7 separate regions of the Homo sapiens genome follow, and regions 2, 3, 4, 5, 6 and 7 are each linked to region 1. Evidence: fine-mapped expression QTL. A gene starts in region 1. Each other region holds a variant in brackets. All regions are shown on one strand. Distances are from middle to middle.

Region 1 (4,075 bases):
TCACTGCAACCTCCGCCTCCCGGGTTCAAGTCATTCTCCTGCCTCAGCCTCCCGAGTACTTGGGATTACAAGCACGTTCCACCACACCCGGCTAATTTTTGTAATTTTAGTCGAGACAGGGTTTCACCATGTTCGCCAGGCTGGTCTCGAACTCATGACCTCAAGTGACCTGCCCACCTCGGCCTCCCAAAGTGCTGGGATTACCGCCGTAAGTCACTACACCCAGCCTCAAAAACTATATTTTTAAAAATTAGCAGCTGGGCGCAGTGGCTCATGCCTGTAATCCCAGCACTTTGGGAGGCCAAGGCAGGTAGATCGCGAGGTCAGGCGTTCGAGACCAGCCTGGCCAAGTTGGTGAAACCTCATCTCTACTAAAAATACAAAAATTAGCTGGGCATGGTGGTAGGTGCCTGTAGTCCCAGCTACTAGGGAGGCTGAGGCAGAAGAATTGCTTGAACCCAGGAGGTGGAGGTTGCAGTGAGCAGAGATCACGCCATTGCACTCCAGCCTGGGCGACAGGGTGAGACTCCATGTCTCAAAAAAAAAAAAAAATAGCCAGGCACGGTGGCTCACGCCTGTAATCCCAATACTTTAGGAGGCCAAGGCAGGAGATTTGCTTGATCCTCCCAGGAGTTAGAGATCAGCCTGGGCAACATAGCAAGATCCTGTTTCTATAAAAAATACATTTTTAAAAATTGGCCAGCCGGGCGCAGTGGCTCACACCTGCAATCCCAGCGCTTTGGGAGGCTGAGGTGGGTGGATCACCTGAGGTCAGGAGTTCGAGACCAGCCTCACCAACGTGGAGAAACCCTATCTCTACTAAAAATACAAAATTAGACAGGTGTGGTGGCACATGCCTGTAATCCCAGCTACTCAGGAGGCTGAGGCAGGAGAATCACTTGAACCCAGGAGGTGGAGGTTGCGGTGAGCCAAGATCGAGCCATTGTACTCCAGCCTGGGCAACAAGAGTGAAAACTCCGTTTCAAAAAAAACAAAAAAAAAATTGGCGGGGGTGCCAGGCACGGTGGCACATGCCTGTAATCCCAGCACTTTGGGAGGCCAAGGCGGGTGGATCACTTGAGATCAGGAATTTGAGACCAGCCAAGCCAACATGGTGAAACCCCGTCCCTACTAAAAATACAAAAATTAGCTGGCCGTGGGGCACATGCCTGTAATCCCAGCTACTTGGGAGGCTGAGGCAGGAGAATCGCTTGAACCCAGGAGGCGGAGGTTGCAGTGAGCCCAGATCACGCCACTGCACTCCAGCCTGGACAACAAAGGAGACTCCATCTTAAAAAAAAATTAATTAAATAAATTTTAAAAATTAGCCGGAGCATGGTGTTGTGTGCCTGTGGTTCCAGCTACTGGGAAGGCTGAGGTGGGAGGATTAACTGAACCTGGGAGTTTGAGGCTCCAGTTAGCTGTGAACTGACCTCCCTGGGTGACATATATATATTTAAGCCACTGAGCTGTGAAGGTTGTGAAGGTATGTGAGTTATGTCTTGAAAAATACACACATAGTGAGCGCCAAATCCCGGGAGTAGTGTTTAAGTGGCGGGCTTGTCAGCTGTCAAGGGCTCTGCAGCCCTTTCTCTGAATCCAAGTTCTTCTTCCTGTGGACAGGGAACCCAGGCTGCGAACTGGGAGGATGTGGCCTCGTGGGGGGCAGGGCCAGCGTGCTGTGATGGGGATGGGGCTGGGCAGGTTGGGGCTGCCTGCTACTCCCCACTCCTGACTCTGGGTGGGGACAGAAGGCAGAGGGAGGCTCCTGGCACCTGGGGCACAGGAATCTCAGGCATGTGGTCCTGAGCCTGTTTCCAAAAGCCAGACCCTCCTCCCCAGGGCGGAGAGACTGGGAGGGGCCCCAATCCAGGCTCCGGGATGGCCTGGCTGGCATCTGGGGTTCCAGTGGCCCCTCTCCCTTGGCCCTGGCAGTGGGGCTGGATACTGGCCTGCCTCCCACCAGAGTCCCCCCAGCTCCTCCCTGCTGTGGGCTGGCCTGGGAGGAAGGGGGTGGGGTGCACTTACATTTGCAGGTCTTTCCAGCCCCTGGGGCAGCCTGATTAACCAGCTTCTCCAGGGCCAAGCTGTTGGGGGTGAGGTGCAGCCCGAAGCAGCCAGACCAGCCCCTGAGCCTCCCGGGTGCTGGCAGCTGTCATGGGGCTACCCTGGGGGCAGCCTCACCTAGGGCTGCAGATGCTCCTCCTGGCGTTGAACTGTCTCCGGCCCAGCCTGAGCCTGGGTGAGTGGGGGTCCTGGATGGACGCGTCCAGCCAGACCCAAGGGGCTGGGGGCCCTGCTGGAGTGATTGGACCCTGGGCGCCCGCCCCCCTCCGATTGGGAGAGGCAGCCCCAGGGACCCCCACGCCCGTCTCCGTGGCTCACCTTTTGTCCCCCGTGGCCACAGAGCTGGTGCCCTACACACCACAGATAACAGCTTGGGACCTGGAAGGGAAGGTCACAGCCACCACCTTCTCCCTGGAGCAGCCGCGCTGTGTCTTCGATGGGCTTGCCAGCGCCAGCGATACCGTCTGGCTCGTGGTGGCCTTCAGCAATGGTACGGGGACTGCTGTGGGGCCTGGGTGAGGGTGACGGCTGAGGAGAGTGGTGGGCCCTAGGAGCCCCTCACCAGCAAGCGCCTTCAATGATTGAGCCCCTGTGGGGGCCTTTGGGAGAGTAGGTGTGGATGAATTGGGCTTTATCTAAAGGGGTAATATGTGTATTGAAAAATACACACGTAGTGAACACCAAATCCCGGGAGTAGTGCTAGTGGTGGGTTTGTCAGCTGTCAAGGGCTCTGCAACCCTTTCTCTGAATCCAAGTAGTTCTTCCTTTGGACAGGGAACCGAGGCTGCGACCTGGGAGGATGTGGCCTCCTGTGGGGCAGGGCCGGTGCACTGCAATGGGGCTGGGGCTGGGGCTGGGCAGGTTGGGACTGCCCGCTGCTCCCCACTCCTGGCTCTGGGTGGGGACAAAAGGCCAGAGGGAAGCTCCCCTTCAGGGGTAACAAAGTCGACTGGGTCTGGACTATCTCTGGGGGCCCTGAGGGAGGAGGTGGCATGGGGGGTCAGGGCTGGAGACTGGGCGAACACAGAACCCCCACTCATAAGGACAAAGCTGCTTTCTCCCCTCCCACCTCCATCTGTTCTCTCCTCCTGCAGCCTCCAGGGGCTTCCAGAACCCGGAGACACTGGCTGACATTCCGGCCTCCCCACAGCTGCTGACCGATGGCCACTACATGACGCTGCCCCTGTCTCCGGACCAGCTGCCCTGTGGCGACCCCATGGCGGGCAGCGGAGGCGCCCCCGTGCTGCGGGTGGGCCATGACCACGGCTGCCACCAGCAGCCCTTCTGCAACGCGCCCCTCCCTGGCCCTGGACCCTATCGGTGGGTGGTCCCCACCGGAGCCCTGGGACTGGGGCTGTGCTTGGGGCGGACGCATTGCTGGGACCAGGGATGCTCTCTCTAGCATCTTTCCAGGGAGGGGTCCCCGGCCCCGGTCCTCCCCTTTGCAAGCCCGGGCTCCTTCCACTGTAGAGTCAGCAACAGTGCTCACCCCCGCTGGGGCCGGGCAAGGCCCAGGAGGAGCAGGTGGGCACCTTGGGGAGGCGGGATCTTAGTCAAGGTGGGAGGGGGCAGCTTCCCCAAAGTCTAGGCCCCTGTCCCCCACCACGGGCAGATCTGGCAGGAAACTCGGGGGCCGAGTTCAGACCCAGTCTCGTCGGTATTAGGCAGGGAGCAGGAGAGGTGGCTCCTACCCGCTCTTACAGATGAGGAAACTGAGGCACAGGAGGTCAAGTGGCCTGCCAACATCGGGGTGGAGCCGGGATGGGGAAGCAGGCAGTGTGTCCAGGTCAGGACTGTCCGGACACAGGAGGAGGCGGGGTGACCTCAGGAAGACCAGGCCCAGGGGAAGCCGGGAAGGCAGGGCGTGGTGAGGCTGGAACAGCACCCCGCTCCGCCCAGCCCCCTTCTGCCCTCTCACCCACTCTCCAGGTCCACCCTCTGCCCTCCCCGCTGCCTCACCCTGGCTCAGCCTTCCAGCTCCATGCCCCGCCCCATCCCCCGCAGCCAC
Region 2 (4,000 bases), 150 kb before region 1:
TTTGCACTATCAGATCAGACAGAATATTTTTTCCCCCAACTTATAGGAATTTCAACAGACGCGTGCCTGTATTCAAAAAAGAAACGGCATATGTCACACGAATCGAACCAGTCAGCTACATTCACCACCTTTTAATTTTACAGGCAATACCTACCCTTTTCAATACAAAAACATTAGGGAATAAAATGGAGATGACATGTTGAGAATGATCAATGAAAACGCTAGCGAGACAAACGTTCTCCCTTCCTAAAAGCCGGAGGACTTGCTTTGGGCGAATGGAGAAAGAAGAGCCTTTTGTTAAGAAAAACGTGAGCAAGGTGGTTTCGATTTTGCACCACGGAGCTCAGGTTTTCAAGAGACCCTATACAATGTTTCTGGGAAGATTCTCAGGGATGTGTCGGGACAGACAGTGGGGAAGATTCTGGGGGGGCTGGGGAGGTGGAAAACCGGGAGACCTGCTGAGTGAATGGGAAAGGCGCCGCCCAGACACCAGGGAGAGAAAGAGGAACCGCATCCATGCGGTCCCCCGCCCCCACGCCCAGGCTAGGAGGAGGGGGGAAGTGGGGCACAAAGGATGCGCACGCCTCCCCGCTCGGGTCCCCTGCACCCCTAGAGCCGCGGGGGCCGGAGACCCCGCTCCCAAGTCCAGCCCCGCGGGACCTCGCCCCGGCCCGCGCCCGCGCCGGGCCTGAATGGCAGCGCCGCGGGGCCACGGGGACTCCGAAAAGAGGCCGCGTCACAGCCCGGGTTCCCGTCGCCTCTCGGGACCCTCCCCAGCCCCCCTCAGTGAGCGAGACGGGGCGGTCAACCCGCCATCGCGACAGGGCGACGAAGCCCCGGGCCTTCCACGCCAAGGACCGCGTCTTCGGAGGGGCAGGGAGCGGCGGGGGAGGGGAGGAGACACTCACGTTCTTCATGGCCGCGGCCATGTCGTCGTAGCGCTCCGCCTGCTCGGCCAGCCGGGCTTTCTGCACCAGTTGCTCGCGGTCCACCATCTTCGCGGGGCTGGGTCTGGCCGGAGAAGGAGGAGGACACTGGGGCGGCCTGAAGGGCTTGGAGGGCGCGACTGGAGCCCAAGTGCCGGAGAGGACCGACCCACAGAGCGAGCAGCTGAGGCGGCGGCTGCGCGGAGGAGGCGGCTGGAGCTGCGACCGCGGGACCGGGCGCGAGGCGGCTGCGGCTGCTGTGCGTGCCACTGACGGACAACCCCCTGCGGCCCCGCCCACGCCGCATGACGAAGGCAGGCCCCGCCCACCCGTCCGCAAGCCCCGCCCATGCCCCGCCCGAGCCCGGCCGCGGCTAGAACTCCCCGCTCCCCAGCTGGGCTCACTGCGCGTCTTCCGGGCACCCCGTCCTTTCCCACTGCGCCCCCACTCTCCCCTTTTTTCACTTCACTCCCCAGTTCCCTCACCCCAGCTTCTCCAGTCGCCCCCTTACGCCTCCCCCTTGAGCCTCCCGCCCCGCCAGCCCTCGGACGCATGGGCCCCTGGGAGTTGTAGTGTAACCTGCAGTGCACTGAGGCGCTGAGGAGACCAAGGACAAAGGGGCGGTCAAGACTACAACTCCCAGCGGACATAGCGCGCAGGCGCAGGAGGACGGGGGGGGGTGCTTCGAATCCCGAGGCCGCTGGGGACCCCTGGCGGGGATCAGGGCTGCATCAGTCCCTGCGAGTGCTGATTCACCGCCCCGCCCCATATTCTCCGGGAAATTACGAGAGGAGGGGGCAGGGGCCTCAGTCCTAGACCCTGTTTCCGAGATCACGTAGCAGGTCGTGGTGGGGGAAGGACA[G/A]GAGGCGCGTCCATTGTAGATCCAGACTCTCAGTGTGGTGCCTGCCCGCGGGATGGCCGAATTAAGGGGCCAGACCCTGGGGACTGTCACCTCCACCCCCTACGAGCTTCCATTAAACCCCCCACCCCACCTTGAGGCTCTTGGGCCTGAATAGGTGAAAACATGGACGAACGACAAATACCGGCTGGCCACAGTGGTTGATTTCCAGAAAGGATGCAGCTGTCTGCTGGCTGACCCTGGAGAACCCCTTCTTCCTCTCCAGGGTGGAGTGCTAAAGATTGAGTTCAGCTACCAGGAGCCTACTCCACATCTAACTGGGCTGCGTCTAGGGCTTGGTTGTCCAGCCCTTCTCTCCCCTCCTAAGACATACATACCTACTGAGGTCACGCTGATATATTCTCGTTCATATTATTCCACATAGCTTGCAGATAGCATGGGTTTTTTTGCTTTGTTTTGCTTTTTTGTAGAGACGGGGGTCTAGCTTTGTTGCCCATGCTGGTCTCGAACTCCTGGGCTCAAGCGATCCTCACGCCTCGGCCTCCCAAGGTGCTGGGATTACAGATGTGAGCCACCATGCCTGCAGGCCTGATAGTTTTGACTGCACATTTTATTTACTTTATGTATTCAACAATTATCTATGAGAAGCTACTGTGTTCCAAGCCCTATTCTAAGCCACGAGGTACAGTAGTGAACAAAACAGACAAAAATCCCTGCCCAAGAAAATAGGTGAGATATGTACAGTATGCTAGAAGTCAGTAAGGAGTGAGTTTTGAGGTTGCAGTGAGCTGAGATTGCGCCACTGCACTCCAGTCTGGCGACAGAGCAAGACTCCGTTTCAAAAACAAATAATAAAATAAAAAGTTTTTTAAAGGCTGGGCACGGTGACTCACACCTGTAATCCCAGCACTTTGGGAGACCGAGGCGGGCGGATGACAAGGTCAGGAGATCGAGACCATCCTGGCCAACATGGTGAAACCCTGTCTCTACAAAAAATACAAAAGAACTAGCTGGGCGTGGTGGTGCCCACCTGTTATCCCAGCTACTCGGGAGGCTGAGGCAGGAGAATCACTTGAACCCGGGAGTCGGAGGTTGCAGTGAGCTGAGATCCCTCTACTGCACTCCAGCATGGGTGACAGAGCGAGACTCCGTCTCGAAAAAAAAAAAGAAGTGAGCTTTGGCCTGGCACGGTGACTCACACCTGTAATCCCAACACTTTGGGAGGCCGAAGCGGGTGGATCATCTGAGGTCAGGAGTTCGAGACCAGCCTGGCTAACGTAGCAAAACCCCATCTCAACTAAAAATACAAAAATTAGCTGGGTGTGGTGGTGGGCACCTGTAATCCCAGCTACTTGGGAGGCTGAGGCAGGAGAATTGCTTGAACCTGGGAGGTGGAGGTTGCAGTGAGCCGAGATCGTTTCATTGCACTTCAGCCTGGGCAACAAGAGCGAAACTCCATATCAAAAAACAAAACAAAAAAAAAGTGAGCTTTGCAGACTCTGCTGCTGCCAGGAGTACTCTACTACTGGCCATGGTCAATCCCACCGTGTTCTTTGACATTACTATTGAGCCCTTGGGCTGCGTCTCCTTCAAGGTTAGGGGCATGGAAACCAAGAAGCCAAGTGACCTCTCCGGAGCTTGCAGTGAGCCGAGATTGTGCCAGTGCACTCCAGCCTGGGAGACAGAAAAAGACTCCGTCTCAAAAAAAAAAAAAAAAAAAGAAGTGACCTCTCATCTAAACTGTAAAGCCATGTTAACATATCGGAGCTGTTAGCAGACAGTGTTGTAAAGACAGCAGAAAACTTTCGTTCTCTGAGCACTGGAGAGAAAGGATTTGGTTATAAGGGTTCCTACTCTCTCTTTTTTTTTCTTTTCTTTTTCTTTTTTTTTTTTTGAGACAGAGTCTCGCTCTGTAGCCCAGGCTGGAGTGCAGTGGTGCAGTCTTGGCTCACTGCAACCTCTGCCTCCCGGGTTCAAGCGATTCTCCTGCCTCAGCCTTCTAAGTAGCTGGGATTACAGGCGCGCACCACCACGCCCAGCTAATTTTTGTATTTTTAGTAGAGACGGTGTTTCACCATGTTAGGCTGGTCTCGAACTCCTGACCTCATGATCCATCCGCCTCAGCCTCCCAAAGTGCTGGGATTACAGGTGTGAGCCATTACGCCCGGCAAGGGTTCCTACTTTCACAGAATTACTCCAGGGATTATGTGTCAGG
Region 3 (4,075 bases), 300 kb after region 1:
AGAACTGACATAAAGTCGATTTTTTTCCTTAGTAAGGATTGTTTTTATCACATTGACATTTAGTTTATTAGAGCTAACTTTATAAGACCAGTTCCTAAAGAGCTTTTTACCTAAATCTGTTGCCATTTTCTATAGATAAGATGAGAAAATGCTGAAAAAGTATGGTTTTTCCCTCAAAGATTATTCAAAATAAAATCACATCATCAGTTCTTTACCACCAGGAAGCGGCATAATTACCTCAGACTTTCAAGGAAACAGGTATGCCCAGCAATTGGTTTAATTTAGGCTTAGAATTGTTTTCTTCATCCAAATTGCTAGTTCATCTTCTCTATCCTTGATATACTTTTTAATGGAAAAGAATCTATTTCTATTATTGACTTGTAAGAGTATAATTGAAAAATAATTAGCAAGGCTTTTACAAATGAATGCAGGAAAGAGAAAAGATATATATATATATATATATATATATATATATATATATATATATATATATATATATGTATGTATGTATATACTTCAAAAGTAGTTTCCAATAAATGCCACTAGTCTGGTATCCAATAAATGCCACAAAAAATTAGAAAAGAGAACTAACTTTTGTGGCACTTTTAACATGCACCAGACAAGTTAGATATGATTATTCCAACTTAATATTCACAGCATCCCAATGTTACCCAAAAGAAAATGAGACAGAAAGGGTTCAATAAACTTGCCCCATCTCACATGAGATTTACTGATAGAGCCAAGCCTTAAATTCAAGTGTATCTTATCGTAAATTCCTTGTCTCTTCTGTCTCATGTTAAAACATTGAAAACTAAACTGGAGTAGAATTCTGTGATTGAAGTATAATTTGCAATAAGAAAGTCATGTTATTTATTTAGTCAATAAGAAAGACTTTAAATCAATGTATTTTTGCCTTAGTGTAATAATTATTGGATGCATAGTGCTTAACTAGCTTTATCAGTATCTATAATATGATTTGTTTAAATCATGTCTTTAACTTTTGTTTTAAGTTCAGGGCTACACGTGCAGGTTTGTTACATAGGTAAATTGCATGTCATGGGAGTTTGGTGTACAGATTATTTTGTCACCCAGGTAATAAGCATAGTGTCTGATAGGTAGTTTTTGTTGTTGTTGTTGTTTTGTTTTGTTTTATTTTGTTATTGAGATGGAATCTCACTTTGTTGCCAGGCTGGAATGTAGTGGTGCGATCTCGGCTCACTGCAACCTCCGCCTCCCGGGTTCAAGCGATTCTCCTGCCTCAGCCTCCCGAGCAGCTGGTAGTACAGGTGTGTGCTACCATGACCAGCTAATTTTTGTATTTTTAGTAGAGATGGGGTTTCACCATGTTGGCAAGGATGATCTCGATCTCTTGACCTCGTGATCTGCCTGCCTTGGCCTCCCAAAGTGCTGGGATTACAGGCGTGAGCCACCGCGCCCAGATGATACGTAGTTTTTTTTATCTTTAATTTTCTCCCACCTTCCACCCTCAGTAGGCCCCAGTAGCTGTTGTTCCCTCCTTTGGGTTCACATGTACTCGTGTTTAGCTCCCACTTATAAGTGAAAACATGTAGTATTTGGTTTTCTGCTCCT[G/C]TGTTACTTTGCTTAGGATAATGACCTCCAGCTCCATGCATGTTGCTGCAAATGACATGATCTCATTTTTTATGGCTACATAGCATTCTATAGTGGATATGTACCACATTTTCTTTATCAAGTCTACCACCGATGGTCAATTAGGTAGATTTTATGTCATTGCTATTTGAATAGTGCTGCAATGAACATATGCATGCATGTGTCTTTAGGGTAGAAAGATTTATATTCTTTTGTGTATATATCCAATAATGGCATGCTGGGTCAAATGGTAATTCTGTTTTGAATTCCTTAAGAAATCACCAACTGTTTTCCACAATGGCTGAACTAATTTACATTCTCATCAGTAGTGCATAAACATTCCCTTTTCTTCACTACCTCACCAGCATCTGTTATTTGTTAACTTTTTAATAATAGCCATTCTGACTGGTGTGAGATGGTATCTCATTGTGGCTTTGATTTGCATTTCTCTAATGATTATTGATGCTGAACATTTTTTCATATGCTTGTTGGCTGCAGATACGTCTTTTAAAAAGAGGCTGTTCGTGTCCTTAGCCAACTTTTTCATGGGGTTATTTATTGCTTGTTAATTTGTTTAAGTTCCTTATAGATTCTGGATATTAGATCTTTGTCAGATGCACAGTTTGCAAAATATCTTCTTCTGTTCTGTAGGTTATCTGTTTACTCTCTTGATAGTTTCTTTTGCTGTGCAGAAACTGGTTAGTTAAATTAGGTCCTATGTGTCAACTTTTGTTTTTGTTACCATTGCTTTTGGTGTCTTCATCATGAAGTCTTTGTCAGGGCCTATGTCCAGAATGGCACTTCCTAGGTTATCTTCCAGAGTTTTTATAGTTTTAAGTTTTACATTTAAGTCTTTAATCTATGATGAGTTGACTTTTGTATATGGTATAAGGAAGGGATTCCGTTTTAATCTCCTGCATATTGCTAGCCAGTTATGACAGCGCCATTTATTAACGAGAAAGTCCTTTGCCCATTGCTTGCTTTTGTCACCTTTGAGGAAAATCAGATGGTTGTAGGTGTGTGGCATTATTTCTGGGTACTCTATTCTGTTCTATTAGTCTATATGCCTGTCGTTGTACCAGTACCATGTGGTTTTGGTTACTGTAGCTGTGTAGTATGATTTGAAGATGGGTAACTTGATGCCTCCAGCTTTGTTCTTTTTGCTTAGGATTACCTTGGCTACTTGGGCTCTTTTTTGCTTCCAAGTGAATTTTAAAATAGTTCTTTTCTAATTCTGTGAAGAATGTCATTGGTATTTTGATAAAGAATAGCATTGAATCTGTAATTTGCTTTGGGCAGTATGGCCATTTTAACCATATTAATTCTTCCTAGCCACGAGCATGGAAAGTTTTTCCATTTGTTGTGGCATCTCTGATTTCTTTGAGCAGTGTTTTGTAATTCTCATTGTAGAACTCTTTCACCTTCCTGGTTAGCTGTATTTTTAGATATTTTATTCTTTTGGTGGCTATTGTGAATAAGATTGCATTCTTGATTTGGTTGTCAGCTTGGATGTTGTTGGTGTATAGGAATGCTGGCAATTGTTGTACATTGATTTGTATCCTGAAACTTTGCTGAAGTTGTTTATCAGATCACGGAACTTTTGGGCAGAGACTATGGGGTTTTCTAGGTATAGAATCATATAACCTGCAAACAGAGATAGTTTGACTTCCTCTCTTCCTATTTAAATGACTTTTATCTCTTCCTCTTACCTGGTTTCTCTGCCTAGGACTTCCAATTCTATGTTGGATAGGAGTGGTGTGAGTTTTGTCTTGTGCTAGTTTTCAAGGGGAAAGCTTCCAGCCTTTTCCATTCAGTATGATGTTGGCCACTGGTTTATCATAGATGACACTTACTGTTTTGAGGTATATTCCTTCAATGCCTAGTTTGTTGAGGGTTTTTTACGTAAAGGGATGTTGGATTTTATTGAAAGCCTTTTCTGCATCTATGGAGATGATCATGTGGTTTTTGCTTTTTGTTCTCTTTATGTGATGAATCACATCTATTGTTTTGTGTATGATGAACCAACCTTGCATCCCAGTATAAAGCCTACTTTATTGTGATGGATTAGCTTTTTGATGTGTTGCTGGATTTGGTTTGCTAGTTTTTGTTGAGGATTTTTGCGTCTATGTTCATCAAAGATACTGGCCTGAAGCTTTCTTTTTTTATTGTGTCTGTGCCAGGTTTTGGAAACAGGATGATGCTGGCCTCATAGAATGAGTTAGGAAGGAGTGCCTCCTCCTGAATTTTTGGAATAGTTTCAGTAAGAATGATACCACCTCTTCTTTATACATTGGGAGAATTCAGCTGTGAATTTGTCTGGTTCTGGACTTTTTCTAGTTGGTATGCTTTTTATTACTGATTCAATTTCAGAACTGATTATTGATCTCTTTAGGGATTCAATTTCTTCCTGGTTCAATGGAGGTCATATATTTCCAAGAATTTAATCATTTGTTCTAGATTTTCTAGC
Region 4 (4,075 bases), 160 kb before region 1:
GCAACTCCATTCTTTCTGCAGGCATATCACTGTCTTGTCCTTCTGCTACACCATCCCTAAAATACCCAGATCAATCCAACCCCCTGCCCCTCCTCCCACTCTTGCAGCCAAGATTTAGGTGAGGGAGGGGGACACTGAGAGAGAGAACTAGAGGTTGAAGTCACTACAAACGGCCTGGCAATCCTAGGTTATTGCCTGCCACCTCTTCTTCATAGAGGAACGTGACCATTAGTTAAGCCTATCCTAAGGCTTTTTTTTTTTTTTTTTGGAGACGGAGTCTCGCTCTGTTGCCCAGGCTGGAGTGCAGTGGCACGATCTTGGCTCACTGCAAGCTCTGCCTCCCGGGTTCACACCATTCTCCTGTCTCAGTCCCCCGAGCAGCTGGGACTACAGGCACCCGCCACAATGCCCAGCTAATTTTTTGTATTTTTTAGTAGAGACGGGGTTTCACAATGTTAGCCAGGATAGTCTCAATCTCCTGACCTCGTGATCCACCCGCCTCGGCCTCCCAAAGTGCTGGGATTACAGGCGTGAGCCACCGTACCTGGCCAAGCCTTTCTTCCAAAAGTAGCTGCATTGATCACTGCCTCCTTTGTTGAGTGCCAACAAAAGATGTTTCTTCCCCCTCCATGGATTCCCACTGGTCATTCTATTACATTCTTCTATTGTCCCTCTCCTACTCTTCCCCATTAACATACAGTGAAAGTTAAGATTTAAAAAAATGAGGCCTGGCGCAGTGGCTCATGCCTGTAATCCCAGCACTTTGGGAGGCCGAAGTGGCCGGATCATGAGGTCTTCAAAACCGGCCTGGCCAACATGGTGAAACCCGTCTCTACTAAAAATACAAAAATTAGCTGGGCATGGTGGCACGAGCCTGTAATCCCAGCTACTAGGTAGGCTGAGGCAGCAGAATTGCTTGAACCGGGACCCGGGAGATGGAGGTTGCAGGGAGCCGAGATTGCACCAGTGCACTCCAGCCTGGGCTACAGAGTGAAACTCCGCCTCAAAAAAAAATTTAAAAATAAGTAAGTAAATAAATAAAATAAAAAATAAATGATGCATTTCAATCCCACCTCTTCCTGGTTCTTTCAAAATCAAGGTTCTGGAATTAAGTCTACAATTGTTACCATTTCTTCAATGTTTCACTCCCTCCTCAACCCCACAGCCCTACACAGTCGTCACTGTCTTCCGACCCCAGGCATCCAGTGCTCTTGGTCTTCATCTTAAGTCTGAACTCACAGAGGCATCTAACCCTGATGACCGCTCTTTCCTGAGGCTCTCCTCCCCTTGTCAGCCTTCTTTCCTGGTCTTTCCTTCCTCGTTCCAGTCACTACTTAAGTGCCAACCACTCCCTAGCGCTTTACACTGTGACACAGATGCTACATTTTTTTCTGGGTGACCTTTGTTCTGCATGGTTCCAACACACATGGATACAAAGCGGCTCCCTCTTGAATGTCAGTTCTACCAGGGAAGAGGATATTATATTCTGCAGCTGTTAGGCCAGCCTGGTTATTAGTGGATCCTAAATGTTTCTTTGCTTACACTGTGCCAGGGCACTGTTACGAATGGCGGTCAAATTGACCTGT[A/G]GCCAAGTTAATTTGCCTCCACTTAAGTGTTTCCTCAAATTCAGCAGAACACCAGAATTCATCTTTTCCACCATTTTCTCCTCCTCTTTCTTCTTCTATCTCTGGCCACCCATTTCTGCCTCTCCAACCTGCCCTTGCCGTTCTTGTCCAGGTCCCTGAAGACTAGACCTGACAATCTACTCCTCAGCCTCCCCTTGCTCTGCCTCACTGTCCTACTCAGTTTCCACACTGCTGCCTGGGATCTCGCCACACCAAAAATTAGATTATGGTCCTCTTCAGCCTGAAGAGACTCACCATGGCTTAAGAAGAAACAAACCTCAGAAGGCCCTTCGTGAACTGTTTCCTGTTAACCTCTTTCAACTCATTTCCTGCTACTCCCTCAAAAAGCGCACCACCACAGCATTCCCTGAATGCCACCAACAAGGACTAAACAAATCACGCCACCAGTTCTCCTTTTCCATCCTGAAACTAAGCGTCCTATGCCCTCTGCCTGGCTATTCCTTCCTCCAACCTCTCCCCCTCCCTCAAGTTTCCCAAAGACACTGCGCAGGCATCACTTCCTCTAGGAAACCCTCCCTGACGACCAGTGTCAACTAAGCGTCCGTCTCCAGTAGCACAGCACCCTAGGCTTACTTCAATTTCTTTTGTGGAATCAAGATCCCCACAGATGTTCAACAGGACTCCCATCACAACCGTATCTTTCCTAGGATTTTAGATCAGTGCATTTATTTCTTTCACCTGCCTAAAATGTCTACAAAATATTCAAATGCTTACATCCAAATACTCAAATGTCTGCCGGGCACAGTGGCTCATGCCTGTAATCCTAGCACTTTGGGAGGCCAAGGCAGGTGGTTCACCTGAGGTCAGGAGTTCAACACCAGCCTGACCAACATGGTGCAACCCTGTCTCTACTAAAAATACAAAAAAATTAGCTGGGCATGGTGGCATGTGCTACTTGGGAGGCTGCAGCAGGAGAATCGCTTGAACCTGGGAGGTGGAGGTTGCAGTGAGCTGAGATCGTGCCATTGAACTCCAGCCTGGGAAATAAGAGGGAAAATCAGTGTCAGCAAACAAACAAACAAAAAAAACACTCAAATGTCTACGAAAATATCTTATATACAATATAAATAACTAGCATCTCTTTTCTTCCTTTGATCTTCACCCAAATCCTCAAAACATGCTCCAAACTCCAGTTTGCAAATTCCACATAAAACTATATTATTCTGGTTTTTACTTGCTATACAAAAGGTTTTCTCTTCCTCCCAGATCTGTTTCTTTTGAGTGAGGTATCTGCTTCCATTCGGTTCTGAGTGGTACCCTCATGCCTCCTGGCAATATCTCTAAGACTCCAAACAGCAAAACTACAGCACTTACCTCATGTTAAAAATCTCAAGCTCTCCTTTGTTAAATGACATTCAAAAAACACACTGCAATCGTGGGATCGAATGTTTTCTAAAAGAAACCGGGTTACACTTGTATTGAGTAATACATCTTTCAACTGTCCTAAAGGAAATGAGTTCTTCTGTATTTAAACCTAGATGACACGCCACCACCTCAAGGTTAACCAATGGAAAAATTATTAAATATGCAGCAGTTTAAAAGGATTTTCCATGCATCTGCAAGCAATGGAACATATGCTAAAATTAATTGAAAGAGATCAATTGAAACAACAGCTGGTATCCACTTTACCCATGACCCCTTTTCTAGAAAAAACAAAAACTTAAAACAAGAGCCTTAGACTTCGTTTTTTTTTTTTTTTTTTGGAGATAGCGTGTCGCCCAGGCTAGAGTGCAGTGGCACAATCTCAGCTCACTGTAGCCTGTCTCCCTGGTTCTAGTGATTCTCATGCCTCAGCCTCCAAGCAGCTGGGACTATAGGCGCACGCCACCATGCCCGCTAATTTTTTTTTTTTTTTTTTTTGAGACAGTCTCACTCTGTTGCCCAGGCTGGAGTGCAGTGCAAGCTGCGCCACCCCGGGTTCACGCCATTCTCCTGCCTCAGCCTCCCGAGTAGCTGGGGCTACAGGTGACCGCCACCACGCCCGACTAATTTTTTTGTATTTTTAGTAGAGACGGGGTTTCACCGTGTTTGCCAGGATGGTCTTGATCTCCTAACCTCGTGATGCACCCACCTCAGCCTCCCAAAGTGCTGGGATTACAGGTGTGAGCCACCGCGCCCGGCCTAATTTTTGTATTTTCTGTAGAGACAGGGCTTCACCATGTTGGCCAGGCTGGTCTCAAACTCCTGACCTCAGGTGACCCGCCCGCCTCCACCTCCCAGAGTGCTGGGAATACAGGCGTGAGTCAGCCAGCCTCCCAAAGTGCTGGGATTACAAACCATGAGCCTTAGACTTTGAAAAAAAAAATTTTAAGGCAAATTAAACATTTCCACCTTTAAAATCAGAAGATTATCACTTTATAAAACTGTTGTGAAATTAAATGGGAAAAGTACATAAAAATGCTTCCCAAGGTGACAGTAAACGTCAAACT
Region 5 (4,075 bases), 530 kb before region 1:
CCCAGGAGGCAGAGGTTGCAGTGAACTGAGATCGTGCCATTACACTCCAATCTGGGCGTCAGAGCGAGACTCCGTCTCACACACAAAAATAAAAAAAAGAAAAGAAAAAAAGAAAAATGCCTTAGGCACTGAAGACCAGGCACTGCAGAGAACCTCACATGTGCATGAGGGGCCAGGAAGCCTTGGCCTCCCTTCCACCCTTCAGATCTTGCAAAGCACGTTCAATTGGCTGAACCGAATTGGCTGCAACTCCAGCCCCAACGGGCTCTGGGGAATAGGATTTCAGGCTTTTCAACAGCTGCTGGAGGAGGAGGGTGGACTGACGAGTATGTGAGCCAGCCCCTAGGACCTTTCCCTGTTGTAAAATTTTATAATGAATATGTATTTAACCAGCAAAACACATCCAGAATGCCCCATTTAGGGACCCTCGGTATATTTCTTGCCAGTCTGTTTTCTTTGTGCCTGTGGGTATAGAAAGAAAATACATATGTATGTTTTGATATACATATCTATTATTTATATAACACAATTGGATTGTATAGCCAGCCCTGCATATCCGTGAGTTCGGAGTTCAAGAATTCAACTGCAGACTGAAAATATTTGGAGAAAAAATGGATTGTTGTGTCTGTCCTGAACACATACTGTCATCTTACTGTTCCCTAAACAATACAGCATAGCAACTATTTACAGAGAATTTACATTACATTAAGTATTACATTAATAAGTAATCTAGAGATGATTTAAAGTATGTTGGAGGATGTGTGTAGGCTACACACAAATACCACATCATTTTATAGCAGGGACTTGAGCATCCTTGGATTTTTGTTTTTTGGGTTTTTTTGTGATGGAGTTTTGCTCTTGTAGCCCAGGCTGGAGTGCAATGGCGCGATCTCGGCTCACCACAACCTCTGCCTCCCAGGTCCAAGCGATTCTCCTGCCTCAGCCTCCCAAGTAGCTGGGATTACAGGCATGTGCCACCATGCCCGGCTAATTTTGTATTTTTAGTAGAGACAGGGTTTTCTCCATATTGGTCAGGCTGGTCTTGAACTCTCGACCTCAAGTCATCCACCCGCCTTGGCCTCCCAAAGTGCTGGGATTATAGGCGTGAGCCACTGGAGGTGGAGTCTTGCTCTGTCACCCAGGCTGGAGTGCAGTGGCGTGTTCTCAGTTCACTGCAACCTCCACCTCCTGGGTTCAAGCTGTTTTCCTGCCTCAGCCTCCCTAGTAACTGGGATTACAGGTGCACGCCACCATGCCCGGCTAATTTTTGTAGTTTTAGTAGAGATGGAGTTTCACCATGTTGGTCAGGCTGGTCTTGAACTCCTGACCTCAGGTAATCTGCCAGCCTCAGCCTCCCAAAGTGCTGGGATCACAGGTGTGAGCCACCACGCCCGGCTGCATCCTTGGATGTAAGTATCTATGGGAGGTCCTGGAACCATTCCCCCACGGATAGGGGCTATACATTTGGTTACTTTTTTTAACTTTGTTTTTTCCCCGTGTCATGAAAATGTCAGAAGTGTGATCTTGAGCAGCCGCGTGTGTGAGATTGCCTTGGTGACCTTTGCCCTCCTTTGCCACAGTGGCTGTGACAGTGAGAAGCAAGTCCCAGAGGAACTTAGAAGGGACTCAAAGCCAGGAAGGAAAGGGGGCGGCCTGGAGGGCCCCCGCCTGCCAGGCCTGCCCAGTGGGTGTTCACCGGAGCCGTGGCTGAGGTCTGTGGCCCTCACCAACCCTGTGTCTGCCTTCCTTAGGGGAGGAACATCATCGTGTTCTACGGCTCCCAGACGGGGACTGCAGAGGAGTTTGCCAACCGCCTGTCCAAGGACGCCCACCGCTACGGGATGCGAGGCATGTCAGCGGACCCTGAGGAGTATGACCTGGTAAGCTGCCACCGCGTGCTGGCCCCAGATGGAGGCAGTGGGTAGGACAGGGAGCAGGTCTGTAGGGCGCCCCTCAGCAGGGGGAGGCCGGCAGGGAGTGGGGTCCTGGGAAGACGTCCTCGGAAGTTGCCTTCCCGTGAGGGTCATTGCCATCCCTGCCCGGGCTGACTGACGGAAGGGCCATTCCTGCAGTTGCAGCCACGTGCCAGGCATCGTTTCCCCAGGACTGGCCCTCCCCTGAGTGCCGGCTGCCCTCCTGGCGGCCGCCACATCTCCCAAACCAAACCCACCCTCCCCAGCTGCTCCACTCCCCTCTCCTTCGAGGTCTTGGTGACGGGCAC[T/C]ACCCCACAGCCCTCTCCAGGCTGCATTTGCAGTTGATGAACAGTTTAGTTAGATATCAGTGTGCACCGGGGCTGTGCGGTGCCTGGGAGCTTTGGAATGAGGTTCCCAGGGTGGCCCCAGACCTGCATCAGCTCAGGAGGCTGCATTCTGATGGCTCTTTTGTGCCAAGCTTCACTTTCCTCTAGAAACACATCCTCTCCGCTCCAGCCTAACACGGGTGACCTTGTCCTGCCCACCTGGCACAAATGCCCATGCCCCAGCCCCTCCGTGTTGTTACTTCTCTCTGATCCCACGACACTCAGACATCCCTGGCCTGGTGCCACCCTGGGCAGGACCTGGCCTTCCCCATCTGGTGCGGGTTGAACCTTGAACAGGCTCAGTCATGGCCGGGGCGCGGTCCTGTCCCTGTTTCTGCAGGCCGACCTGAGCAGCCTGCCAGAGATCGACAACGCCCTGGTGGTTTTCTGCATGGCCACCTACGGTGAGGGAGACCCCACCGACAATGCCCAGGACTTCTACGACTGGCTGCAGGAGACAGACGTGGATCTCTCTGGGGTCAAGTTCGCGGTGAGTCACCCAGAGACTGCTATGGGCTCCCGGTGGCCTGCGGTGCCTCCCTGGGGACTCCAGATCCATGTATCTGAAAGGCAGCCCTCCAGACCCCCACCCTGTCCTCAGCAGCCAGGGCAGGCCACTTGTGAGACCCTCTCCTCTGCCCCAGACCCCAGCACTACGAGAATGTCCCCTCCCTGTCCCCAGCCCCAGTCGGCTCCAGGGGGCATTGGGTGCTGGAGACTAAAGGCAAGAAAGGTCTGGCTGGACGACTGAGACCTGCCTGGCCTCGGAGAGCTGGAGCCCCAGCCCGGTGGGGAGGGTGGGCTGGCCCCGCTTCCCTGTGGGTTGAGGCTGGCAGTGGACGGGGCAGGCTGTGGGCTGCAGGTCAACCAGATGAAGCCTCTTCAGTGGCCCAGTGTTCCTTGCAGTGCGAGGCGCCTGGTGGAACGGAGGCCTGCAGGTGTTGCCAGCAGCTCAGCCAGTGCTGTGGGGCCTCCCGCCCTGCCCCCATGGCCCCTCCCACTGGTCAGGTCGAGGGCCAGGCCTCAGAGCGGCCCCTGTGTCCACGCAGGTGTTTGGTCTTGGGAACAAGACCTACGAGCACTTCAATGCCATGGGCAAGTACGTGGACAAGCGGCTGGAGCAGCTCGGCGCCCAGCGCATCTTTGAGCTGGGGTTGGGCGACGACGATGGGAAGTGAGTGCCCACCCTGCCACCATGATCAGCGCGGCGGGCTTAGGCAGGGGCCGTGGAACGTGAGGGGCGCGCACACCATTGTGTCAGCTGAGACTCAGCGACACGCACCTCCAACACAGAGGGAAGGGGCTCTCCTGCCTCTGCCCTGCCCCTGCCAGTTTTGCTTTTCGGCTTGCCCAACTCCCTGGAGCCTTCCTGATGCTCTGGGTTTATGTCGCTGGGTGCCCCAGGGTGCACAGTCCTGAGCTTTGGGGATGGGGTGGGGTCGGGGCGTGCCTGGCACCAGGTACCGTTGCCACATGGGCCTCCCCTGAGCCGCTCCCCCTCTCCTCTCCTCGGCCCAGCTTGGAGGAGGACTTCATCACCTGGCGAGAGCAGTTCTGGCCGGCCGTGTGTGAACACTTTGGGGTGGAAGCCACTGGCGAGGAGTCCAGGTGAGCAAGTGCCCGCAGGTGCGGTGGGTGGCCTGGGCGGGTCCTGTGCCGAGGGCAGCCACCCTGGAACAAGGGCTGGCAGTGGGTCGCAGCAAGGTTAGAAGACACTCCGTCATAGGGTCGAGGAGGGACCTTGGTCCCAGCCAAGGACTCACTCTGCCACGTTGC
Region 6 (4,075 bases), 30 kb before region 1:
TAGCTGGGACTATTGGCATGCACCTCCGCACCTGGCTAACTTTTAAATTTTCTGCAGAGATGGGATCTCACTATGTTGCCCAGGCTGGCCTCAAACTCCTGTGCTCAAACCACCCTCCTGTCGCAGCCTCCCTAAACACTGGCATTGCAGGTGTGAGCCACCACACCCAGTCCCCTTGACCTCTTTCAGCCTTGGTTTCCTGTCCGTAAGTGGGAGAAATGTCACCTTGGCAGTCTGTGCAGCTTAGGAGAGACAAGTACATTTGATGTTGGTTACTAAATGTTGGACCCTGGACCGGCACTCCAACAGCCGGTGCCCTGGGGGGCAGCCATCAGGTGGGGCATTTGCAGGCCTCTTCTTATTCAGACAGCTCCAGGTGCTGAGCGGAATCATTGTCCACATTCACTCTGTCATTCTGAAGCAGTGTGTAGAACATTCTAGAACACTCACCACGTGGCATGCCCCTGCTGGGTCCCGGTGATGCAGCTGTGAATGAAGCAGGCTTGGGGTTGCTGCCACCTGGGGAGGAGCAGAAGGACTGTGGTCACAGCCACACGTGGACGCGGTTACTAGGGTTCTGGTGGGTGCTGTGGAGGGTGCAGAGGGCGTGTGATGGGTCATCCTGAGCGATGCAAGCTGGGCCTGGAGGACGTGGAGTGTTCGCAAGGGAAGAGGGTGGGCTGGAGTGACTGCAAGGAGAAGGTCTCGGGAGGTGGAGCTCGGGATGTGGGGAAGAGCTCCCTGGGCCTGGTGGCCGGTCAGCAGGGGCCAGGTCGGGGAGTGGGTGCAGAGAGCCTTGGAGAGGCCAGAGAGGGGTGATTCGGTGCCCATCTAGGGCTTCCTTTTTGGTTAGCAATGCTTCAGGGCACCTGGGAGACATGAGGAGCTAGAACCTGTGCTGCAGTTCCCAGCTCTGCCCCTGCTCCCTGGGTGTCCCAAACCCTGCTCCTTTCCAAGAAATGTTGGGATCTCATCTTCAGGATGGTGGGTGCTAATAGGGAGGCTGAGGTGGGTGGATCACCTGAGGTCAGGAGTTTGAGACCAGCCTGGCCAACATGGTGAAACCCCGTCTCTACTAAAAATACAAAAAATTAGCTGGGCGCAGTGGTGCATGCCTGTAGTCCTAGCTACTCGGGAGGCTGAGGCAGGAGAATCACTTGAACCTACCCGGGAGGTGGAGGTTGCAGTGAGCCGAGATCACACGCCTGGGTGACAAGAGGGAAACTCCATCTCAAAGAAAAAAAAATACATGCATGATGAAACACACTAAGCAGTTGGGTCAGAGGGGAATTATCAGTAGCAAGAAAGAAGCTGGGCTGGTGACTAGCACCCGGAATTTATGCTCTCTTTCTTCATGGGCCTGTGCGGCGGTACGTAGGCTGCGGGATTGACTTTGAATTCTTCCTGGCTGCCACAGCAAAGAGACAGGATCAGGTTCTTGATTCATGATGCCCTTAAGGTGTTAGGGGAAGAAAAGCAAGCGTGAGACCAGGCGCGGTGGCTCACACCTGTGATCCCAGCACTTGGGAAGGCTGAGGCGAGTCTATCCCTTGAGGCTGGGACTTTGAGACCAGCCTGGGCAACACAGACATCATCTCTACAAAAAGTAAAAAAATGAGCTGGGTGTGGTGGTGAATGCCTATTGTCCCAGCTGCTCTGGAGGCTGAGTTGTGAGGATTGCTTGAGACCAGGAGTTTGAGGCTGCTGTGAGCCAAGATCACACTGCTGCACTGTAGCCTGGGTGAGAGAGTGAGACCCTGTAACCAAAAAAAAAAAAAAATCAGCTGTGGAAAAGCATCACGTGTTTCCCCTGCGCTGAGGCTGATTCTGCAGGGCTACTGATGTGCATTGGTAA[C/A]TGCTCATGTCTGTCCTGTTCACAGATCTGCCGGAGGCGCTGGGCAATGACCCCGGGACTCCAGGCCAGAGGGGTCTGAAGCTGTTTGGGAAAGCAGCGGGACTCCTTGGGAAGATGGCCATGGCCCCAAGCCCTTCCCTGGTGCAGGTGTACACCAGCCCCGCGGCTGTGGCCGTGTGGGAATGGCAGGACGGGCTGGGCACCTGGCACCCCTACAGTGCCACCGTCTGCAGCTTCATCGAGCAGCAGTTTGTCCAGCAGAAGGGCCAACGTTTTGGGCTTGGGAGCCTGGCCCACAGCATCCCCTTGGGCCAGGCAGACCCCTCGCTGGCCCCTTACATTATTGACCTCCCCAGCTGGACCCAGTTCCGCCAGGACACCGGTAAGACGCTGTCTGCCTCTCGCACATATCTGGGTGCCGCACCTGCTTTCCCACAGGCTCTGCGCCAGGTGTTGGGGTGATGGACGTGACTTACAGAGCTTCTGCTCTCTCCCTGCAGCACACGTGGTGGTGGGTGGGTGCAGTGAGTGGGAACATCCACATAGGTTGAGTGCAGCTCACAGTGGGAGAGGCACTGTGGGAGGCCCTTCCCCTTGTCTTGCAAAGCAGAAATGCCTGTCCCGACCACAGAGGTTGAAGGGTTCCTTTGGCCGGCAGGCCGGCATGGAGGTGGTGCGTCATAGGAGTTCAGAGGGCCCTGTCCCACCACTCAGTGGCTGTGTGCCCTGGGCAGGCAACTGCGCCCCTCTGCATGTGTGCGTTTCTGCTTTTTGGTCTGCGATGTGTTTTGATCTTTTTTTTTTTTTTTGAGACGGAGTCTGGCTCTGTTGCCTAAACTGGAGTGCAGTGGCGCAGTCTCGGCTCACTGCAACCCCTGCCTCCTGGGTTCAAGCGATTCTCCTGCCTCAGCCTCCCGAGTAGCTGGGATTATAGGCATCCACCACCACACCTGGCTAATTTTTGTATTTTTAGTAGAGACGGGGTTTTGCCACGTTGGCCAGGCTGGTGTCGAGCTCCTGACCTCAGGTGATCTGCCTGCCTCGGCCTCCCAAAGTGCTGGGATTACAAGCATGAGCCACCGCGCCTGGACCTGCAGTGTGTTTTGATCAGTATTATTGAGAATGAGGCACCAGTTTCCTCTCGGAGCCATCCCTTACTCTAATCTGGTGGTTGTCACTGGGGGTGATTTTGTCCCCGGGGCCATCTGACAATGTTTGGAGACATTGTTGGTTGTTACAGCTGAGTGGGTGGGAGGTGGGGGTGCTCCTGGCATCTGGTGGGTGGAGGCCAGGGATGCTGCTCGCCATCCGGCAGTGCACTGGGCTGGCCCTGCAGTAAGGAATTATTGGCCCACAGTGTCACCAGTGAGGAAACTTGAAAAACTGGTTTTTCCTTTTTTTTTTCAATTTTAATTTTAGTTTTATTTTTAAAAGTATGGGTTTTTTTTTTTCGTGTTTGTTTGTTTGTTTGTTTTTTGTAAAGACTGGGTCTCCATTGCCCTGTGTTGCCCAGGCTGGTCTTCAACTCCTGAGCTCAAGTGATCCTCCTGCCTTGGCCTCCGAAAGTGTTGGGATTACAGGCTCGAGCCGTCATGCCCAGCCCTGGAAACTATGTGTTTCCAGGAGTGTCGTAGAGTCTGTGAAAACTGTGGCTGTCAGTCAGCTCCCAAGTCGTTGCCTTCACAGTGTGTGAAGTCAACTGAGAAAGATAGCAGACAGGATAAATAATAACATGGAAATTGCATATCGTGGCAGAGAGCAGGAAGTGTTAATCGGGGAATGAAAGTGGCAGGTGTTGTAGAGGTCGATTTGAAGTTAGCTGGGTGTGGTGTCATGTGCCTGTAGTCCCAGTTATTTAGGAGGCTAAGGCAGGAGGATCGCTTGAGCCCAGGAGGTCAGGGTGGCAGTGAACTATGATCACATCACTGCACTGCAGCCTGGGCGACAAAGGGGTACCCTGCCTCTAACAATAAATAAATAAACAAATAGCAGCATGACTGTGTACCTACTGTGTTCCTATTTGTTTATTTTGGCGGTTGAAAAAAGAATTTGAACGTTCCCTGTATCTTGGGGATGCTAGCAGACTAACCTTTTGTTTTCCTTTGAAAATAGGCACCATGCGGGCTGTGCGGAGACACCTGTTCCCCCAGCACTCAGCCCCTGGCCGAGGTGTCGTCTGGGAGTGGCTGAGCGACGATGGCTCCTGGACTGCCTATGAAG
Region 7 (4,075 bases), 760 kb after region 1:
CCCTTTTCTGATCTGCTATAGCAATTTTATGTTTGTTAAGCCCACAACATTCTGTATATTGTCAGACATGTTTCACAAGACCACATCTCGTTTTCCTAAGTCCAGTGTGTGCATCTCAAGAGCTAGTGCTCCAGGGTAGGAGACCCAATGGAAAAGCAGGACATGGACACCTGAGGGTACAGAAGGTGCTACTGAAGATACCCTGATTCATGGATGATGGGGCATCCAAAGACACACTTTAGTGACTTTAACATAGCAGCATGATCCTCAAAAAGATCCTGTTAAGTAACCTTCAAATCACTAGACAGTGTGATATTCCTTTCTTGGGTCTAAATTTTGGCCATTATTCAACCTTAGGGCCTACAAGTGTGTGCTGTCACAGTAGGAACTGAACCACATCAGATTGGAGTCATGAGCTTTTGGTGTAAATAGCCAACTCTAAACTTGCTCTAAGTCAAGTAGGCTGGAAGCACCCCAAGATGACCCTCCCTGTAGCCTTGAATGGTACCCTTTCCCCATCAGCTGCCACATGTCCTCCTCTCTACTCTCGTCTTCATCACAAAGAATCTGACAAGCTCATTCCTAATAGGGCAACAAAGACTTAAAGAGTGAGATTTGCCTTTTCCCTAAAGTACGTCAACACAGGAGAAAAGTGCAAGCCGTTACAACAGAAATGTAATGGTGAAATTTTAGGTATCAACCAAAAAGTTGAGGCTTTTCTTTTGTGTAAGAAATTTCCAGCTACTAATCAAATGACTATATATAAGTAGCAAACTATCCCCACTATTATTAATAAATTACATATTTTTCTTTATCCTATACAATTTCATAAATGTACTCACATTTTATAATAACTATAATTTGAATAGTCATAGTATATTCATGTCTCCAAAGTGCTGGGTCATGAGTTAGATGAGTTAGGCAGATCATGGGTTCCAAGTCTACCTCCCTGGGTTTACACCTGCACCATTGAGGCAAGTTGCTTAAATGTGTTTGTGCCTCATTCTCTTCATCTGTACAATTGGAGAAAATATTCCCCACCTCATGAGGGGTATTGTAATGATGAAATAAGATCGTATACACAGGCATTTAGAACCTTGCTGGACACTTGGTTTATGTTCAATAAATGTTAGCTATTAGTAAGATTTATTTCTAAATAATAAACATTTGCAGCTGGCAAATTATAGATTTTTGGCAGGTCTTCATATTTTAATTTGCCATGGCTTATAAAGAATATTTGGCATAAAGGGAAGTTCTTATAAGATTGAGATTCGTGATTTGCTCAGCATTTTCAAAAAGTGTGTGATGAGGTTGACTACACAGCAGTGAATTTTATTTATTTATTTATTTATTTATTTATTTTCAGACAGAGTCTCACTCTGTCACCCAGGCTGGAGTGCAGTGGCACGATCTCAGCTCACTGCAACTTCTGCCTCCCGGGTTCAAGCAATTCTCTGCCTCAGCCTCCCAAAGATTTATTTCTTACATAAATGCATGTTTTTAAATTTTGATTTCCAGATGGAAGCTATCCCCAAAGATGATTCTACATTATCTGAGAGAAGGCGAGAGCTTCACAAGGAAGTTGAAGTAGCTAAGAGGAATTTGGCCCAACAGGTTAATATCAATGCTCATTTAAGCTTCTATCTAAGAAGCGTTCATACAAAGTTGTGCTTTTAACTGTGCTCCACAAAACCTTATCAATAAGAGAGTCATCAAAGAGAGTATGATCCTGCTTCATGTGGGCATATTTCTTCATCTCAAAGTCCACTCCAATCCTACACTAAATTTGAGAAAAAAGAATATGTTTGAACCGCAAAAAGTATTCAAAGGAATGAGATTTTTAAATTATGGGCTGTTGATTACATTAAAAGTAAACCACAGATGTTTTATTTCACCAATGTCT[A/C]ATTTCAAATTTTCGTTTGTTTTTATGTGTCTTCTTTTTCTTAGTCACTTGAAAATACAGTCTAAATACAAAGAGGTTCTATCATGTTAACCCATCGATTTTCACATTATTTTACAAAATGAAAACAATGAAGCTAAAACACCATTACTTTATTTTTAATTTTTATTTTTTTTATAGAGAGGGATCTTGCTATGTTGCTCAGGCTGGTCTTGAACTGCTGGCCTCAAGTCATCATCCTGCCTCAGCCTCCCAAAGGCTTGAATTACAGGCGTGAGCCACCACACCTGGCCTGTTTAAAAAAATACATTTTGTATAGGAAGTAAAAAGGTAGTCTAAGATACTAGCTTTACTGTATTACTTCAAACAAATAACTTATAATATTATCTGTGTTTTTTTTCAAAAGAAAATTATATCAGAAATGGAGTCTAAGTTAGTAGAACAACAACTTGCAGAAGAAAACAAGCTTTTAAAGGAGCAAGAAAACATGAAAGAGCTAGTAGTCAACCTTCTCCGCATGACTCAAATCAAAATTGATGAAAAGGAACAAAAGTCCAAGGATTTCCTGAAAGCTCAGGTAACTGCATTTTTTTAACCATTCATTGATAACTACAAGAGTTCAGGGTAGCCTCATTATAATGCCACGTGCATTAGGACATGGATGAAGCTAGAAACCATCATTGTCAGCAAACTATCGCAAGGACAAAAAACCAAACATTGCATGTTCTCACTCATAGATGGGAATTGAACAATGAGAACACTTGGACACAGGAAGGGGAACATCACACACCGGGGCCTGTTGTGGGGTGAGGGGAGCGGGGAGGGATAGCATTAGGAGATATACCTAATGTAAATGATGAGTTAATGGGTGCAGCACACCAACATGGCACATGTATACATACGTAACTAACTTGCACATTGTGCACATGTATCCTAGAACTTAAAGTATAATAAAAATATATAAATATTAAAAAAAGAACTGGAAGGAAACTCAAAAAAAAAAAGAAAAGCTATACAATTGACCCTTGAACAACATGGATTTGAACTGCATGGGTCCATTTATACACAGATTTTTTTCAACCAAATGCAGATCAAAAGTAGAGTACTCACAGAATACAAAACCTGCAAATATGGAAGGCCCACTTTTCTTACAGGTGAGTTCCACAGGGCCAACTTTGGGACTGCTTGAATATGCTTGGATTTTTGTATTCTCAAAGGGTCCTGGAACCAGTTCCCTATGTATACCAAGGAACCACTATAACTGTGCCTCTCCTTCAAGTACCAGTGACTATAAATCTTCCCTAAATGAGATTCAATCATGCACTGAAAGATAGTCCCAAGATTCAATTAACAGTAATCAACAATTTAGATGGGAAAGGAGATCATTGATAATGATCGGAGGATTTGAACAGATGGCAATTTCAGTAAGAATAAAGTGGGTGCCTCCAGTGGACAGGGCTGGCAGCTGCATAGGCTGCAGATATCATTTAGTTTTCACTCCCATCTCAGACTCCACTGTGATTTGTCCAGGAACAACTCAAGAGTGGTAGCATTAGGTAACTGTCCCTCCCAACTTCATCAAGACAGCATCATTTAATCGAATGCCAGATACCCTTAGTTGCTTCATCACACCATGATTTTCCTGGGCCTCCTACAAAGTGCCAGTGCAACATTCCCCCCTAAAATCAACAATAAAACAAATGGTAAGGCAGCACTCCTGTCATGCAAGCTAAAATTCTACCATTAGAATTGTTTATTCCATATAAGGATTATGTCCAGATCATGCCCAGAAGCTCCCTGTTAAAAATAAACAGGATATTACATATTACTAAAATAGAAGAATTTATCAGGCCAGGCATGGTGACTCATGCCTGTAATCTCAGCACTTTGGGAGGCTGAGGCGGGTGGATAACTTGAGGTCAGGAGTTTGAGACCAGCCTGACCAACATGGTGAAACCCCATCTCTACTGAAATACAAAAATTAGCCAGGCATGGTGGCAGGTGCCTGTAATCCCAGCTACTTGGGAGACTGAGGCAGGAGAATCGTTTGAACCTAGGAGGTGGAGGTTGTAGTGAGCCAAAATCGCACCACTGCATTCCAGCCTGGGTGACAGAGCGAGACTTCCTCTCAAAAATAAAAAAAAAAAAGAATTTATCTCATGACCCAGATGTGGT

What was found. PIP is the estimated chance that this variant, and not a neighbour inherited with it, causes the effect.
Region 2: its variant is fine-mapped to the expression of UPK3B in whole blood (TOPMed, PIP above 0.99). The same link has a PIP of 0.9 or more in lung.
Region 3: its variant is fine-mapped to the expression of UPK3B in whole blood (TOPMed, PIP above 0.99).
Region 4: its variant is fine-mapped to the expression of UPK3B in whole blood (TOPMed, PIP above 0.99).
Region 5: its variant is fine-mapped to the expression of UPK3B in whole blood (TOPMed, PIP above 0.99).
Region 6: its variant is fine-mapped to the expression of UPK3B in whole blood (INTERVAL, PIP above 0.99).
Region 7: its variant is fine-mapped to the expression of UPK3B in whole blood (TOPMed, PIP 0.98).

Annotation. Positions count from the first base shown.
Region 1 is chr7:76,508,496-76,512,570 of GRCh38, forward strand. It overlaps UPK3B (uroplakin 3B), which reads left to right and starts at 2,057. Exons shown (of 6, transcript NM_001347684.2): 1 at 2,057-2,242; 2 at 2,408-2,557; 3 at 3,162-3,387. The coding sequence starts at 2,158. LOC124901675 (a long non-coding RNA gene) reads right to left here and starts at 2,238. Exons shown (of 2, transcript XR_007060388.1): 1 at 2,029-2,238; 2 at 1-1,613. RefSeq lists a silencer at 439-644 and enhancers at 1,522-2,094, 2,095-2,667, 3,421-4,072, 4,073-4,075.
Region 2 is chr7:76,357,814-76,361,813 of GRCh38, forward strand. YWHAG (tyrosine 3-monooxygenase/tryptophan 5-monooxygenase activation protein gamma) reads right to left here and starts at 1,178. Exons shown (of 2, transcript NM_012479.4): 1 at 909-1,178. The coding sequence starts at 995. It also overlaps the pseudogene PPIAP81. RefSeq lists silencers at 309-499, 583-782, 1,103-1,512 and an enhancer at 607-1,253. The variant G/A (reference allele first, on the strand shown) is at 1,789.
Region 3 is chr7:76,811,112-76,815,186 of GRCh38, forward strand. No RefSeq gene overlaps it. Among named protein-coding and RNA genes, the nearest start is that of POMZP3, 190 kb to the left of the region's middle. The variant G/C (reference allele first, on the strand shown) is at 1,591.
Region 4 is chr7:76,344,936-76,349,010 of GRCh38, forward strand. The region is part of intron 1 of YWHAG (tyrosine 3-monooxygenase/tryptophan 5-monooxygenase activation protein gamma); the gene reads right to left. Among named protein-coding and RNA genes, the nearest start is that of YWHAG, 12 kb to the right of the region's middle. The variant A/G (reference allele first, on the strand shown) is at 1,587.
Region 5 is chr7:75,977,700-75,981,774 of GRCh38, forward strand. It overlaps POR (cytochrome p450 oxidoreductase), which reads left to right. Exons shown (of 16, transcript NM_001395413.1): 4 at 1,752-1,880; 5 at 2,640-2,789; 6 at 3,349-3,473; 7 at 3,818-3,907. Among named protein-coding and RNA genes, the nearest start is that of TMEM120A, 15 kb to the right of the region's middle. The variant T/C (reference allele first, on the strand shown) is at 2,222.
Region 6 is chr7:76,478,541-76,482,615 of GRCh38, forward strand. DTX2 (deltex E3 ubiquitin ligase 2) reads left to right here. Exons shown (of 11, transcript NM_001102594.3): 3 at 1,881-2,237; 4 at 3,968-4,075. The coding sequence starts at 1,970. Among named protein-coding and RNA genes, the nearest start is that of DTX2, 19 kb to the left of the region's middle. The variant C/A (reference allele first, on the strand shown) is at 1,856.
Region 7 is chr7:77,272,176-77,276,250 of GRCh38, forward strand. It overlaps CCDC146 (coiled-coil domain containing 146), which reads left to right. Exons shown (of 19, transcript NM_020879.3): 10 at 1,519-1,614; 11 at 2,307-2,477. All of the region lies in intron 2 of LOC102723791 (a long non-coding RNA gene), which reads right to left. Among named protein-coding and RNA genes, the nearest start is that of CCDC146-AS1, 26 kb to the left of the region's middle. The variant A/C (reference allele first, on the strand shown) is at 1,904.